2 separate regions of the Homo sapiens genome follow, and region 2 is linked to region 1. Evidence: fine-mapped expression QTL. Tissue or cell type: subcutaneous fat. Region 1 holds a variant in brackets; the other region holds the start of a gene. All regions are shown on one strand. Distances are between the middles of the regions.

Region 1 (8,175 bases):
AGCAGCATGGCCCCGCATGGTCCCCTCTCCAGGCCTTTGTTTGGGCCACGCCCTCTGCCTGAGGTGCCCTTCTCATGGCGTCCCACCTGCCCATCCCTCAGAGCCCTACTCATGCACCGCCACCTCTGAGAAGCGTCCCAGATCTCCACACTGAGAGTAAATGCTGAACACCTCCCCGGCCGTTAGCACTCGCCGGCTTCATGGAAGTGTTCATCCAGCCATGGTTCCTGAGAGCCTGCCTGTCTCCATGGTAGGCTCAGAAGCAGCCAAGAACCTGGTTGTTACCATGGTGGTGGCCTCCTTCCCTGGGTGGAGGCTGGGGTGCTGAGGGGTGGCTGGGAGCTTGGTCTGTATTGGACACGTGGGGCTGCCGCTTAGTTTTGCACATCAGGGTGCACATGGACCTCTCAGCAGCCCCTGCCTCAAAGGCCGTCGGTGAGAGCCCAGCACTGGCCTCTGCACACTTCATACATCTGTCTGTTAATTGTGTTCTGTTCGCCTCGCAGACTGTGGGCTCCTCTAGGGCAGGGCCTCCTGGAGTTTCTGCAAGTGCCCAGTGAGTGCTAAAAGAAGAGGCAGGACACATGCCAGATTCAGGGAGGCTCCGTCTCAGCAATATAGCTCCCTCCACCCACTTCAATATAGCTGCCCCCACCCCCTTCACCACAACCACTGCAGGGCCACTGCCCACGGTGGCAGCAGGAGCTCTGCATGGTGGAGGCCGAAGTCAGGTCCCGCATTTAGCAGCCACGCCTGGAAAGGCCTAGCTTGGCCTGGCGGCAGCGGCTCTCGCCCTACATGCCATGCGCTTGGGCAGCCCGGGGACTTTCCAGCGTAGAGCCCAGAACAACACATTCCCCATGCTCCCCTCGCAAAGCCAAGGTGGACACTTTTATTCCTGCAGCCCTACCTCTGGCTTCTCACTCCCAGATGCACCCACATGGTCGTGGGGTCAGGCCCTGGCTCTGAATTTGGGATTTGGCCAAACCCAACATGATAACCTCAGAGGTGTGAACGCACAAAACATCAAGTTCCTTGGCCTTTGACTAGAATTTTGATCAACTCAGGGTGTTACTGTGCAAAAACGGCTCTTGTTGACAGCTCTGGGCTTGATGAGAAAAAAAATTAACAACAATTTTATGTATCTCCTTCTAGATCTTTTCTGGGCCCACACACATATTATACAGATCTCATCAATAATGGAGAAACTGGTTTTTTGTTCATTGAACACAGTATAAAATAAGGGGATTGTGGTGGTGAGGAAGCAGAGGGGATTCATAAGGGCCCTTTAGGTGAGCCAGCTGGAGCTGGGTTTGGCTTTGGTCCATGGCAGGAGTGGGCAGGGCTTCCTGTCTCTTTGAGGACCTTCCCTCCCACCACCCCCACAGCTCTGGCCTTTCAGGGTGGACAGAGGCCTTTGACCTCCTTCCTCCAGAGACCTGGGGCCTCTGCAAACCCATCCCAAGGCTCTTTGCCTGCAATGTACTAATCTGCTCTGGTTTCTTAAAACTCACTCCATGCTATTGCCTTGAAGTCAATTGTGATGTCATGGGAGATTAGGGCAACTTGTCAGGGATGAACCATCACAGCAGATGGACTCAGAGATACCAAGACACCTTTGGAAGTCTAGTGCCGTTCATCAGAGATACTAAGATGGCACGACCTCCCCGGCCTGCAGCTGGTTCTCATCAGAGGCCTCATTTGGACTCTGAGCACTCTCAGCTCAGCATCTCCTGATGTTGTGGGTGGTTCAAGAGACAAGAGAAACAGATGTAGATTGGTCAGAATCTGGCTGGGGAGGTGGGAATGACATTGTGGTGCTCACAGTTTTATCGAGGAATATTTGCACCACAGCAGACCTCTGCAGGATGATGGAAGATGCCGGACTTGCTGTCAGAAGCTGGCTGGGCATCCCCCCACACAGGGAGATCTCCTGGCAAGTTGTAGAACTGGCTGACCCTCGGCTTCTCAGCTGTCTATGGAGGATCATAGCATCTGCCACGTAGGGCTGTTTTCCTGAGGTTTAAATAGGATGAGGCTTGTGAAATGGGATGTGAAATAAGAGACTGACGTGGAGGAGAAGTGCAAACAGGGAGGTGAGGTGTGCTTGAGGTTTTAAAGCAGCGGAATGTTACACAGTATTTCTGGCCTGTTCCCCGGGTCCTTTCCTGACCCCACCCTGGCTGTGAGCAAGGCAGGGCTCCTCTGTCCTGGGCAATCGGTGATCCTTGGAGCAGCGGGGAGTTCTGTCCACTGCAGAATGCCTGGCTGTCTTTTCAGGTTGTTTTAATTCCTCCTTGCTACTCTCAGCCCTCCTGCAGGCTTACAGTTCCCTCCCATTAGCTAAACAAAGGATCTCAGAGCAGTTACTTGCACCTTAGTGTGAATGATTTTGTTCACTTGTTCCGTCTCCCTGGATATTTGCATTTTCAATATAATGAGGTTGCGTTTTATGCCAGGGACAAGTTCTAGGAGACCCTGCATCATTCAAAACTAACATATTTTAAGACTAATTTTCCTGTAGGAATTAATGTAGAGTGTGTGGGGGGGGGGGTGGTATATTCTGAGAGCACATAAATCCATAACCAGTGAAGTGTATCTTTGCCTTAATGCTACTTTTTATTTTCTCAGCATTATCTTGAATACCTTGCAGAACGCTCTCTCCTAAATTAACAGCCCAGGGTATCATGGGCTCCCTTGGCCTTCCTCATAGCGTTTTGTCACATTTAACTTCCGTACCAAAGTTATTGATTTTTGGGTACATTTTTCAGCACGAGCACTGCCACTGCTACTTAATGAATACTTGGATGACATTGTTATGGGATATAAAAAAGATTTTAAATTATAATAACAGTGAATGTTAAAATAACAGCATATTAGTCCCCATCATTGCAAGAAGAAAATCCTGTGTGTGTAGCAGTGCCGAACCAGCGGGCCACCAACCAGGATGACGGGTCTATCCCAGTGGCGCTACCATCTGGCTGTGGTGAAAAGAATTTATAATTCCGTAGGCCAAGCTATTTTGAAATTAAGTGATTCTCGAGAAATTAAAACATTTTTGGTGATTGCATTATTTCACATTTTTTAATATAAAGATTGTACACAAGTGCACTATTTCCCATTTGCATAATTCAAAGTTGCATCAGACACTCCCGTGTAGACTATAAATATGCACAGAAGGGACAGACTCCTCAGAATGAAAAGGAAGGCATTTTGGAGGTTCCCCTTTGTCTTTTGGAATGACTCTCTAAGTAGTGTAGTCTCTGTGGCAGGGGCTCCGGAATCCCTACCCTTCGGGTTCAGGGCTTCAGGGAGGGAGTTGGGCCACAGTAGTTCCGGGATGACAGTGGCCACGTGAGAGAAGAAAACAGCCCGAGGAGAAGGGAAGGCACGGGTGTGTCCCCCCTCACTGTGTACACACATGTCCTGGCTGCACAGCTGCTTCATTCCTCTAGTGCCTCCCAAGATCAGGGCAGGCCGTGTTGCCCTCTGGACTTCCAAGGGGGAAGTGAGTTACTGGCCCAAGTCACTCACTCATCAAGAACACTGAAGCCAGGTCTGCTGACTCCAGGGAGAGCCTTGTAGATTGTGAGGACCGAATGCATATAAAGTCCTTAGTCAACACCAGCACATGGTAGGTGCTAACACATGTTGGCTACTATTGTTTCTAAGAGAGGGTTTTCTTGAATGGAAAGAAAGGAGAAAAGACAGAGAGGAAGTCAGGAATGTCACAGAGACACCTTCTGGGGCACACAGGTGAGCAAGCACAGAGAGCAGAGCTGCCCAGGCCAGCTGCTGACTTTATTCCGTGTGTCCTCCAGGGGCACTGTGGAGAAAAGGGCAGTATGCCTAAGTGCTGGGAGAGGAAACAAACCTTTACATTCACCTGTGCTTCCGAACACACGCACGCGCCTCTCTCTGTACCTGACTTTGAATGGAACAAACCAGACTTTAACTAACAGGAACTTGAGCTTGTTCACTCAAAATCTGTCTAGGACTTTGTGTTGATCAGTCAGTGTGTTGCCCAGAACATTCCTTAGACTAGTTTTCTCAAAAAATTTTGACTACAATCCACAGTAAAACTCATTTTACATTTCATCTCAGTACACATATTTATACAATAAAAACTAAAGTTTAATGAAATGATCTTGCCATTCCATCCCATTCTCTTCATCTGATTTCCTGTTTTAGTTTTGATCCACTAAGGTGACTTTACAGCCCACGAGTGGGTTCTGACCTATAGTTTAGAAACCTGCTTAGACACTGTTGGGTGTGCAAGCTCACCCCTGGCTGTGAGCCCAGCGACGCCAGGGCAAAGGTGACATGGCTGTGGGGAAATGGGAGACTCCTGATGAGACAGAGGGGAGGGCATC[T/C]GGGGCGACTTTGAACATGACTTCAACCTGGCTGTTCACCTTCACAGCTCTGGCAAGAACTCATGAGGATGTGTGAGCAGAGTGTTTGTCATGACAGGGACGTGTGGAATTGGGTACATTCAATCTGATGAGACTTCTGTGCAGCTGGGCTGGCAGGGGAGGGTTGAGGCAGGGAGCTGAGCAGAGAAAGGACTGCTGTCCTCACTTTTCAGTGGCTTGGGAAGGCCCGTGGTGCAGGAGTCAGTGCCATGAGAGTGGGGACCTCTCCACTCTGATGTCCCCTGTGCCTCGCGCTGTCCTGCCTACAGCAGGCAGGCTTAGGTGCAGAAAGGATGGAAGGGAGGGTGTGGGAGGAGGCGCAGCTGCTGCAGATAGGCCGAAGCCAGTAAGCAGTGGTTTTTCCTTGCAGATGACTCAGAGGCTGGAGCTAAGCGGCCCCGGACCACCATCACAGCCAAGCAGCTGGAGACATTAAAGAATGCATACAAGAACTCCCCCAAGCCTGCCCGGCACGTGAGGGAGCAGCTGTCCTCAGAGACAGGCCTGGACATGAGGGTCGTACAGGTGAGATGCCAGCACTCCTGTGCCCTCCGGGGATCCCAGGCCCGGGACAGGGGTGGAAGGTATCCTGAGTGACATCAGCTCACGGGTGGTTGGGCTCAGGGCTTGACCCCAGGGCTTTTGCCAGAACTGAAGACAGAGTTCTGAGGCCCACCTGGGGAGAGGGGGTGGGGCGCATCGCACTCCCAGACCTGTGCTCCATTCAGGCTTCAGTCTGCTTCCAGCCGCCCGCCTAGGGGGTCCTGGGGGCTTTGGGTTTGTGGTGGACGCCCCCTGAGTATGTCCCTTGTGCTTGTGTGGCAGGTTTGGTTTCAGAACAGAAGGGCCAAAGAGAAACGCCTGAAGAAGGATGCAGGGCGGCACCGCTGGGGGCAGTTCTATAAGAGCGTCAAGAGGAGCCGGGGCAGCAGCAAGCAGGAGAAGGAGAGCTCTGCAGAGGACTGTGGGGTTAGTGACAGTGAGCTGAGCTTCCGAGGTGAGCAGGGCTGGAGGGGCCAGGCCGAGGCCTTAGGAAAGTCCCCTGGGAATCTGTAATCCCTGGCACTCAGGAGGGATCTTTCTTGAGGCCTTGGCAACTCCCTCCTGAACACAGGCTTTTCCTTAAGACTTGCAGTGAAGGGTGGGGGAAATGGTAGTGGCCCTTTACCATGGGACAGGAGTAGGAAACAAGATTGCTGAGGTCTGGAAGCTGGGATGGGCCAGGCCCCGTCCTGTGGCCCCAAGGTCTCCCCTCCCCTCCTGCTGACTGGGGCCTCCCTCATCAGCCCACACAGCTATGAACAGATGACTGGGTTCCAGCCTTGTGCCCCTAGCCCCTCTCCCATCTTTGTCCCCTTTGCTGGGACACTGGCCTACTCCCATAGTCCCCTAGAGCCACCCCTTCCTCCAGTCCTGGTGGTGGGGAGGTCATGCTCCACAGGTTTTTTCCTGGGAAATCAGTACTGTGAGTGCATGTGAGATGGGGAACTGGCTTCACTTCCGAAATCCCTTTCCCCACCACTCACTTCATTCTGTCCCCTGCACACAAGCTTTGCAGCATGCACTATATTCAAATTCATGCATCAGCAAAATTGTAAATTACTGCATGTTATGAATCCTCAGGTTGTTTGCAAAGAATCATAACTGTTCTCAGGTACTGAGTTCTCAAATGTGGAAGGTCTTCTGCGGAGGGGGAAAGGGAAGAGTACTCAACTGGCGATCAGAGACCTGGTTTCCAGTGCAGCTCTGTCAAATCGATTCACTTCTCTTGAGCCCCAGTATTCCCAAGAGGAATACCATATCTTTGCCCATCTCACTGCGTTGTGGGGATCAATGAACACAACCAACTGTGGATGTGCTTGGGGAAAGCCTGGCACATTTGTATACCTGGAAGGCATGATCGTTCCCACAGGGAGCGTGTGGCTCCCGCAGAGGGCCCTGGTCATTTGGGATGACAGGTATAGGGAAAAGGCTAACTCATGGCCATTTGACAATGGAGTGGAGCCTTCATCTTCCTGCTCCCTTTAAAGAGCATGAGCTCCCCCCACCATGTTTTTTCATAAGGGGAATGGGGGGCAGGCCTCAGAAGGGATGGGGTGTTGAAGTCTAGTCTGGGGAGGCCTTATTTAGGGATTGGTGCAGAGGCCCAGGTGGAAATAGAAAAGGAAGTTTGTGGGACAGAGGATGGAACAAGTTGCCTGCCAGGACAACGATGCCCTGGGAGGACTCTAGTTCAGCCCAGAGGTCAGCTGAGCCCTAGAGGGCAGCCTCCTCTGAGAACACAGGGCCCGTGAGGCCTTGGGGACAGCTCATGGGACTAATACTCACCTTTTAGGCTTCTTGGCAGGATTGGGAAAGTCAATCTCATCTGGGCTGTTGAAGTCAACACCTAGAACATACTGGATTGTTAAGCTCATTTCTGTTGGGTGCAGGTGGGTCCCTGGGCTGACCTATCATTGGTTTCTCTGGGAATAATTTCTCAAAGACTAAAACTGCTCACCTCTGTTGGAGAGAGAAATTCTTTCAAGTGGCAAAGATTCCATTAGATCCCCTTAATGAAATTCTTTAAGAAAAAAGAAGGTTCATTTGCCTTAATCAAGTCAATTCTTTGTCCCCAGTGAAGAGCTTATTGAATACAGACAGAAACCAAGTCCTTTGATATTGAACCTCTCTTCCAGATAGACCAGAAGGATTTTGTACAGATGTCTAAGAGTGGTCCTCAGCTTCCCTGACCATATGGGCCTGCTTGCTTCCCAATCAACTAAACCAAGCCCTTTCTCAGCTTGAAAGCTTTCAGGGTAAATGTTGTCAGCATGTAGTTTCCATTTGTGATGTGGAGACATCTGACCCACCCAGCCTTAGGCATTCATCCTCCTCAGTGTAGCCAGAGTATTAGTACACGAGCCACAAGGGACCAACGAGCTCACCAAACATTTGTCCATCCTTCTGGGACCTGGGAATTTAGTCTTTGCAGGTGTTTCTTGTTTTTCTCCTTGGCCTGGGTTGGCCTCTGGATATCAGGCTGCCATATTGGTGTGTCTGACCCATGCTTGGCTGCAAGGCAGCTGCCATCCTTGGGCATCTTTCCTGGTCATGTGTGTTCCTAGGTTGTGAAGAGCAGGGGACCATCAGAGTCCTGGCAGCTGACAATAAATCTCCGTTCTTTTGTCCACAGAGGATCAAATTCTCTCAGAACTTGGCCACACCAATAGGATTTATGGCAACGTGGGGGACGTTACAGGCGGACAGTTAATGAATGGGAGCTTCTCCATGGACGGGACAGGACAATCCTATCAGGACTTGAGGGATGGGAGCCCCTATGGAATCCCCCAGTCTCCATCCTCCATATCGTCCCTGCCATCCCACGCTCCTTTGCTCAATGGGCTGGATTACACGGTGGACAGTAATTTGGGCATCATTGCGCATGCAGGGCAGGGAGTAAGCCAGACGCTGAGAGCCATGGCTGGGGGACCCACCTCTGACATCTCCACAGGAAGCAGTGTAGGCTATCCCGACTTTCCAACTAGCCCAGGCTCTTGGCTCGATGAAATGGATCATCCTCCTTTTTAAACTTCTCTCCTCCCCACCCTACCTGCCCCCCTGGCTTGAGAGAATATCTTCAAGGATCAAAAGAGACTTGCCTTTTAAGGATCGAAAGTACGCCAATGTGAATTTCCATTATTTTCAATGGAAGTCCTCCGCTGATTCCTAGAAGGCTGTGAGACCACACTAGGGCATTGTTTCCCTGGGGAAGCAGTGGGAG
Region 2 (8,175 bases), 40 kb before region 1:
AGCTTGGGCGACAGAGCGAGACTCCGTCTCAAAAAAAAAAAAAAAGAAAGAAAGAAAAAAAAGCCTCAGAATGTGGAAAGGGCATTTATTGGCTGAGCTGCACTGTGTGTGTGGGCATGGGGGTGCAAGGTATGTTGGAGCTGCTGCTTACAGGTGCAAGAACTGAGAGCTAAGCTGACTTTCCTGGGCTTGTCTGCCAAACGACACAGGTGAAAGTGGTATCCCCTGAATCAGTCTTGGGCAGAGATAAGTCCCCACCACAGTAAGGCTGTTCCTCACCTACTGACAGGCTAGTGACATGCAATGGGAAAAGGGCAGGACCCCAGCAGGTTCAAATCAGAGAAGCAGGAGCTGCAGAGAGCATTTTTAAAATATAATTTTAAATTATAAAAGTAATTACTATATATGCTTTACATTCACTGCATTTGAATGTTATCTTTTACTAATGTTACTGAAAAATAATCACTTTACAGAAAATCTGGAAAAGAGAAAAAGGAAAAAATTCCATAATACATCTCCCTAATATACCTTTTTCCAAATATTCTTTTGAATAGTATTTTGGTATCTTTCCTTACCTTTTCCCTAATATTTTAAAAAGCATTTTATTAGTTTTTTTCTGCTTTATAAAATAATGTGCTCATTGAGAAAACTGAAAAAAGCGAAGAGAATAAAATAAAATATCCACTGCACAGATAACCACTTTTACACTTTGGCATTTTTTTTACTCCTCCTAAACAATTTTTTATTGAGGTAAAATATACATATAATTTACCATCTTTACCATTTTTAAGTGTACAGTGTTTATGCTTTTTTTAAGAAAAGTTCCTGAAGTTCATACCGCTTCATATTCTTTTTTCACATTTCCTAATAAATCTCAAACCCTTTTCTACATTAAATATTCTTCTGTTGTATTATTTCTAAGACTTCATAACATTCCATTTTACTTAATAATTTACTGTAACTTATTTACTATCCCCTATTGTTGGATATTTAGGTTTTCCCTTTTAAAAACCTTATAAACATCCTTGTAACTACATCTTCACAAACATTCTTGATTATTTTCTTTGGATAAATTTCTATAGAGATTGGGTCAAATGCATCACATTTGTAGCCAAAACGTCCTGAGAAGACATTTCCCCTCTTTGCAATCCCCACTAGGAAATTGTTTTCTAATTTCCCCACAGCCTAACCAACAATGGGTATTATCATTGCCCTTACATTTGACTAAGATTTTTACATATTTATAATCCTATGCTATTGCATTGTGCTTTTAAAAAAAATAGTATTTCACAAGCATCCCCATGTTATTGGGTTTCATAATTGGTTTCCATGATTCCATAACATACTACCAAACAATTTAATCTACTTCCCTAAGCCACTTTTCTTTTGTTGGCTATTTAGGTTATTTTTCTCCAAAACATAATACTGTAATAAACATTTTCACGCATGAAACTTTTATAAAAAATTCTAGATTATTTCCGTGGAACAGACATTCAAAAGTACTACATAAACTAAAGGGTATGAAAAATTTATGAGTTTGATACATATTGCCAAATTTCTTTCCAAACGGATGTTAAGAGTTTATAAGCACCCAGCAGTATTGGTGAGTGTCCAAGCCCCTTTCGCCAGTCCTGAACTCTAGGATGCCCCTCCCGCGCGTCGGGCATCTCACAAACAGAAAAAGCTGTGCACGTGTTGTTTTGTCTTGCGTGTTTTTCACTGCAAATGAGGCTGGCGTTTCCCCGTGTTTGCTTACTAGTTATATTTCTATAGAACACATTTTGGTAAACACTAAAAATGTCACTGGGTTCTTTTGCTTTTTTCTTCTTGTGTATATTGTCTCGCGCGCGGAGTCACCTCGCAGGTAAACAAGGGAAGAGATGATGCCAACCCAGTACCAGGACACACAAAAGTCACTGTGACCTCATTGGAGACAAATTCTAAGCAGCGCAGACGACCAGGCCATTCTCCCCCGCCCCATGCTCCTCCCTTAAAGGTGAGCAGGTGTCCCTTGTTTGGAGATGACACCAGGGGAAACAGCAGGGAAGGTTCTGGAAGGCTGGGGAGGGCACACAGTCCCCCTTCCCGCCTAAGCTGAACCCCACTAGGCTGGAAGGACACGTATGTCTGCATTTCTGGAAGGAAATGCCGTGGGGGCTGGGGGCAGGAGAGCGGCTGGGTCTTGGGGCAGACGGGGTGGGCTTCCCGCGCCTGCAGCCCGGAGGCGTCGAGCGCCTGATGGAGCGTCAGAGGAGACCTCGTCCCAGCGTTGGGCCTTCTGTTGTATTTCTGCCAGAAACTCGCGTTGAGGAGAATTTGTTTTAAGCGTTTCTCTACCTGTCCATGCATCTCGTAAATACAGTAAGCATGGCAAGCCCTTTCGCTGGTTAACCCCGGCGTCCGTGTGCTCACTGCCGCCCTGCACGCACGAGGTCGCGGATGGTTCAAAGCACCCGCGGTGGCAGCCGGAGAGGCAGAGCGGGCTCTAGGGACCTAAGACAGGGCCGAGCTGGACGACTGGTGGCAGGGCGGCCGGGGAGGCCCCGCCGCGGGGAGGTTTGGGCCCCCTACCCTGCGGAACTGGAGGCAAGTGCGGACTCCGGCTGCAGGCCGCGGTCTGCGGGGACGCGCGCGGGGGGCCTGCGTCCCGCCACCTCCGCGCACAGCCCCTGGTCCCCTTCCCCAGCCCGGGCCGGCGCCGCCCGCCGCGTGACTCGCGCGTTCCGGGCCGAGTACGGGCTGTCCCTTGGCCCAGCCTCAGCCAGACGCGGGGGAGAGAGAGCAGGGGCTGGGAAGTGCCGGCAGGAAAGGAATTGGCCAGGGGAAAGAGGAGGAGGAAGATAGATGGAGTCATCGGTTACGGAGCGCGCTCCGTCCGGCGGAGCGAAGCCGGGGACCGAGAGCGCGCAAGGCGAAGACACAGCGACGCAGCCCCGTCCCCGGCCTCCGGACCGCCTGCCCCGCTCGGCCCCGGCTCGGCTCCGCCCCGCCCCTGGGTCCGAACGGAGGAGTGAGGAGGACACGAGCCGCGCGGGCTTGGAACCCACGAAGACCCGCAAACCCAGGGCGCCGCCGTCTCCGACCACCTGCTGCCGCGGCAGGCCATCAGCAGAATTTATACCCAGGGCGCGAGCCCGCCACGGCTGGGCGGAGGCGGAGGCGGAGGCGGGGAGGGGGGGGGGGTGCCGGCTTGCGAGGCCCCGCCCCGCTCCCTGCCGCCCCGCCCCCCTCCGCCCCGCCGGCCTCACTCGGGGCGCCGGGACCCCCACTCCCTCCGGGGTCGGCTGCCCGCCGCCGGGTTGGGGGATGTGCCGAAGGGCGGGCCTCCCTGCGGAAAGCGACGTCACGGCCGCTCCTGCAGTGTGAATGAATCAAAACGCCCGGGTGACCGCGGCCTCCCGGGCGGCCGGCACGCGAAGGGTGGAGGGGGAGGGGGAAGGAGCGGGCGGGGGAGGGAAGAGGAAAAAAGCCAGAGCTGCAGCAACAGCGTCTCAACCTGGGATGTGCACCAACCCCGGAGAGCGAGATCAAAGGGACTGGAAACAGACTGGGGACTGGCGGGGGGAGGGGGCCGGCCAGCCTGTGGAGTCCTCCCTGAGAAGCGGAGGGCCCGGCTTCCACCGTGACTCCAGCGGCCTGCTTGGGGTTTTAATTATTATTTTGAAATTTCTGAATCGAGCTAGAGCGAGAGAGCGAGAGATCTCCGTAGACTGCGACTCGCTGGCTTTCGCTCCGAGATGATGCAGAGTGCGACTGTCCCCGCGGAAGGGGCTGTCAAGGGGCTCCCGGAGATGCTAGGTGTGCCGATGCAACGTAAGACACCCCCCTTTCTCGCTGATTTAATTCTAACAAGACAGCTAGCAGCCTCAGCCGCTGCGGGGCGGGCCGGACGCCGCTCAGGGGCCGGGAGGGGCTGGCGGCCGGGGCGCAGAGGCGGTCACAGGGCAGGGGCACCAGCCAGAGTGCGTTTGAGGGGGCCAGGCTCTTGGCTGTTTGGGGCCGAATGTGAACGCCTCCTGGATCATGCTTGAGGCGAGCCGAGTACCGAACCCCGCATCTCCAGCCCAAGGCTTTTCTTGGAACGCTGGGGAGAGTGCTGTTTGGGGACACCCAGGGGTACGAGCTGTAGGCCAGGCCTGAGGGCGAGGGTGGTCCCCACAAATCTTCTTTCGCCGGCGTGACGGTCAGCGCTTGCAGGACCGCTAGTGCAACTTCACCCCAGCTGGCGGGAAGTTGGAGAGCGCGTCTCTCGCCCCTGGGGCTGGCGGCGGAGAAGCCCCGGCCACACTCTTAGTCCCTGCGGCCCGCGCCCCGGGCGTGCGTGCCGGGTGAGTCCCCAGCCGCTACTGCCCGCGGCGCCCGCCGCGTGCGCCGCGGGAAACTGACTGCTCCTTGTGAGGGAATCTGCTCGCGCATTCCAGCTAGCCTAGGAATGCAGGGGAGGGAGAAGCGACCGCAAGTTGTGAATTCCGGGTTCAGCCTTTGCGCACGCGAGGGCAGGTGCTCAGGGTGGCTCGGGTTTGGAGGGGTAGAGACGGGGGTGTGTGGGAGCTTTGCTAGCCTGCCCGCCCGCTTTCTTCCCGCGCCCGAAATTAGCGAGACAGCCGGAGCTCGCGGCGTGTTTATCCCCAAGTCTCTCTCTGTGTGTATGGGTGTGCGCGCGCAGAGATTTTCCCGAAGGGAATCCGTCTCTGTGCTTCACTCCTGAGCGAGAGTCCCCGAGAGGGAATCTGTGCAGAGGCCAGAACAGGTGCCCAGTCGTCGCGCGCGCGCGCGCGCGCGCGCGACAAGCGCCGGGAGAGTCCTGCCCCTGTGGCTTGCACGCTCAGCAGGGCGCCCCGGGCACCCTGGAGAGACCAAGGAGTTCCTCGCTCCGCTTGCCAAGGGGTTGTACTTCCGCCTGCGACTTCTTTAGTGGTGCGGTAGCTACATCTTCGGGGTTTACTTTAAGTAAGGGCCGGCTCATCCAGGGATGGTGACTACCTACAAACTAGGGCGCACGAGCGCGCCCTCCTGCGCCTCGGGTTTCCATGGCAGGGTTTCTGTCCGGCGATCCTTCGGAGGGCAGGCGTACCGTAGGCTTCCCTGGGAAGTTTTTGAGAAGGGACTAGAAAAGAATAGCTTCATCCAAGCCTATTTAGATTGTTTCTTGGCTGTATTCTACAGTTATTCTTTGAGTGTTTTCGTGTCAACTGCCGGCAATCAGTTCCACGTCTGTGTTGAGCCTTGGGGAGTTTACCGCTAAGATGTTTTCATAGAAGGCATTGGAGATTCACTACGCCCCACACCCCGCACACAGGCAGGGACAGAGTGGGTTCTCAGCCCCTGCAAAGACGGAAACAGAAACCCTGCAAAGGTGCACCGAGTCCTTAAGCTGCTTGTAGCTCTGCGCGAGTGAGGAGACTGCATGAGTGGGGGAAGGGTGTGTGTGTGTTACTAGTGTCCTTGGTACCCAGTACGTCTGTGCTTTCATGGCTGTGGTCCGTAGGTGACCTGTCTGTTGGGACCCCAATGAAGGACGATGGTCTCTGCTCTGACGGCCTTTCTTGTGATGAGTGACACTCTGATTGTCTCACTTTTTGCCTTCCCTGTTCAGAGACAACTTTGATGTTCGACGTCAGGGAGTCGCTTTGCTAAAATGCCCAGAACTCACCTTCAGAGCTACAGTTTGCCAAGGCTGAGTCTAGGTTCACACTGTGGAAAACTTGAGGTGTACAAAGGAACTTCCACACCCACCCCCCCAGGGTGGCCCAGGGAGGCAATGTCTAATCTAGAGGGGGTGGTCAGTCCTCCCTTTGTCCGAGTTTCGTGACCTTGGTTGGAGGAGGCATCGGCCAAAATTGAGGGGCCCACTCCCTGAAGACTTCTGGATCCAGCTTTTATTTCCTCTTGGAATGTGAATGGATTGTAGCCTCCCTTGCAGCACATCTGGCCTCTGGCTGTTAGGCTGTTGGTGCTGGGACCGCGGGATAGGTCCCCATCACCCACATATACACAACTATTAGTTTTCTTGGGACTGGGCCCAGTGGCCTAAGAAGGGGGGAAGCTCGAGGGGTTGTGGGGCACACCCTTGGGCCTTCCGGGACAGTAGGCTCTTAAACCCTAGAGGAGGGGAGACAAAAGAAACGCTCTCCCACAGGGGTCCCTCCAGTCGCCAACTAGAAGGGTTTCCCTCTCAACACAGACATGTTTGCCTCTTCATCACATGGAGTCACCACGAATGGAGCACTTGGGGACGCAGGTCTAGGTGTCCCCAAGCTCGGTGCCTCTAGTGCCCTCCCCTCTAGGGGCATTTTAGAAGAAGTGATTTAAATCCAGCTTATTTCGGCGGCAGCTGGACTATTCCTTTGCTTATTTGGGGATGGGTGAGGGGCATACCCTTTAGGAAAACGTTTCCAAATGATGTAATAATTTCTCTCTCATCTCTGGTCTTGCTCCAGACTTGGCCTCTTCCTCGCCACTCTGTCCCGGCCTCCCGCCCCCGCAGGCTCCCGTGCGGACTTAGCAGTTCGCGCCGTAGCCCTCCTGGTTTTTTACCGCGCCTTGGTCGCGCGGCCCCCGGTGCGGGCCTCGTCGCTCCGACAGCCCTACAGCTGTCCCTACGGCCCGCACCGACAGCTCGTCCCCGCCACCTCCCTCCGGGCTGTAGGGACGTCGAGATCCGAATCCTCACAGCGCCTGACCCGGGGCCGTGTTGGGTACGGGTACGGCGAGAGCCTTCCGAGCCGCCTCCAAAACTCTCCCCGCGGACCTCAGCAGTCCCTCCACGCGTCGGGGCCCTGCTGGCCGGCCATGCCCTCTGAGGAGACGCGGAAAAGAGCGAGGCATATAGGAAGGTGGGGCGTTTTATCCGCCTCGGTTTTGACCCATCTGCCATGTAGTCTCCCCAGGCACCGAGGGAAAGGACGACGGAAGCCCGCCGCCCGGATCGCTGGCGGGAGAGAGGGCAGCCCGCACGGGAGAAGGAGGAGCCCCGCGGGGTCTCCGCTGGGGGTGGTAATTGGAATGCAGGCCTGGGGGTCTCTGTCCCCCTCCTTGTCTCCTAAAATGCTTCCGGCAAGCTCTGGCGAACCCCGAAGCTGTAGGAAAAAGGTATTTTATTTTGTGTTTGGTAGGGTCGGGGTAAAGGTTTTCCCTGGGACTTCCTCTCCTGGGGCTCCTCCGGGGTGCGTGGGGTAATGTCCCAGCGCAGGTCGAGTTGCAGATCCGAGTCCCCGGGGTTGTTGACTGTCCTTCTTGCAGGACATTTCTTAAGGGGGTGAGATGGATTCACTGTCCAAGACAGGAGTTCACTCAAACGCTGGTGCTGTTCGCTCTTCTTTCCATTCCTGCCTTGTCTCCTAGTGCGAGAAACAGACACACACAACACACACAAATTATATATATATATATATATATATATATATATATATATATATATATATATATAATAGATTGAGATTCTATCATATTCCGAACATTCCGATATAGCAGCTGTAGGCACCATAGACCTCCCTCCCTGCGTCGCGAGAATATATTCTCAGGCAGGAGACAATTTTTACAGATGAGGTCAGCTGTCCCCGCCGGCCGATTCGGGCCTGATGGGTTGGGGGTTCCGATGTCCTAACTGCTAGGATCCCGTTCCAGCCCCTGGCCAGAGCTGTGTACCACAAAGAAGGGAGTTTGGAGAAACCCGGGTAAGCGCGGCAGCGCCCCGCTTGGGACAGCGGATGGCTGAGGACTCCCAAGGGGCGAGAGGGCTCCGGCCTCCTCCTTTCCAGGGCCTTGTTATCTGAGAGGGCCGTTAGCACGGAGGGAAGCTTGGAAAGCCGCTGTCCCAGTGCGCTCCGCATGCGGAATTAACTGTTAAAGCCGGACACGGAGCACGCAGGTGCAGCAGGTGAGGGGCAAAGGTCTGCATTGAGCAGTCCGCAGTGTCCCGGGAAGTCGTAAAGTCGGGACTGAGAAGAAGCAGGACCTAACTCAAGTTTATTTCCTCTCTTGGCCGAGGTCCGGGCTCGTGGAAAACCAGAGCTAGGCGGGGCTACGCAGGGCTGAGCAGGAGTGGCGTCCTAGGGTCTGGGAGCGCGACCCACATGACCTCGCTACGACCGGGGCAGGGCTCCTCCGCCCCGCGGGCAGATGCCGGCCTGGGTGGCCCGGGGAACAGACGATGAATTCTTTAAATGAGCGTTT

Evidence for each region. PIP is the estimated chance that this variant, and not a neighbour inherited with it, causes the effect.
Region 2: it holds the start of LHX4, and the variant in region 1 is fine-mapped to the expression of LHX4 in subcutaneous fat (GTEx, PIP above 0.99). The same link has a PIP of 0.9 or more in fibroblasts.

What each region holds. Positions count from the first base shown.
Region 1 is chr1:180,266,598-180,274,772 of GRCh38, forward strand. It overlaps LHX4 (LIM homeobox 4), which reads left to right. Exons shown (of 6, transcript NM_033343.4): 4 at 4,783-4,937; 5 at 5,238-5,409; 6 at 7,588-8,175. The coding sequence ends at 7,982. LHX4-AS1 (LHX4 antisense RNA 1) reads right to left here and starts at 8,084. Exons shown (of 5, transcript NR_037642.1): 1 at 8,054-8,084; 2 at 7,340-7,515; 3 at 6,741-6,801; 4 at 6,016-6,095; 5 at 3,066-5,374. It also overlaps a transcript of ACBD6 not described here. RefSeq lists enhancers at 2,097-2,391, 4,917-5,844. The variant T/C (reference allele first, on the strand shown) is at 4,374.
Region 2 is chr1:180,226,793-180,234,967 of GRCh38, forward strand. LHX4 (LIM homeobox 4) reads left to right here and starts at 3,472. Exons shown (of 6, transcript NM_033343.4): 1 at 3,472-3,813. The coding sequence starts at 3,738. RefSeq lists a silencer at 2,913-3,042.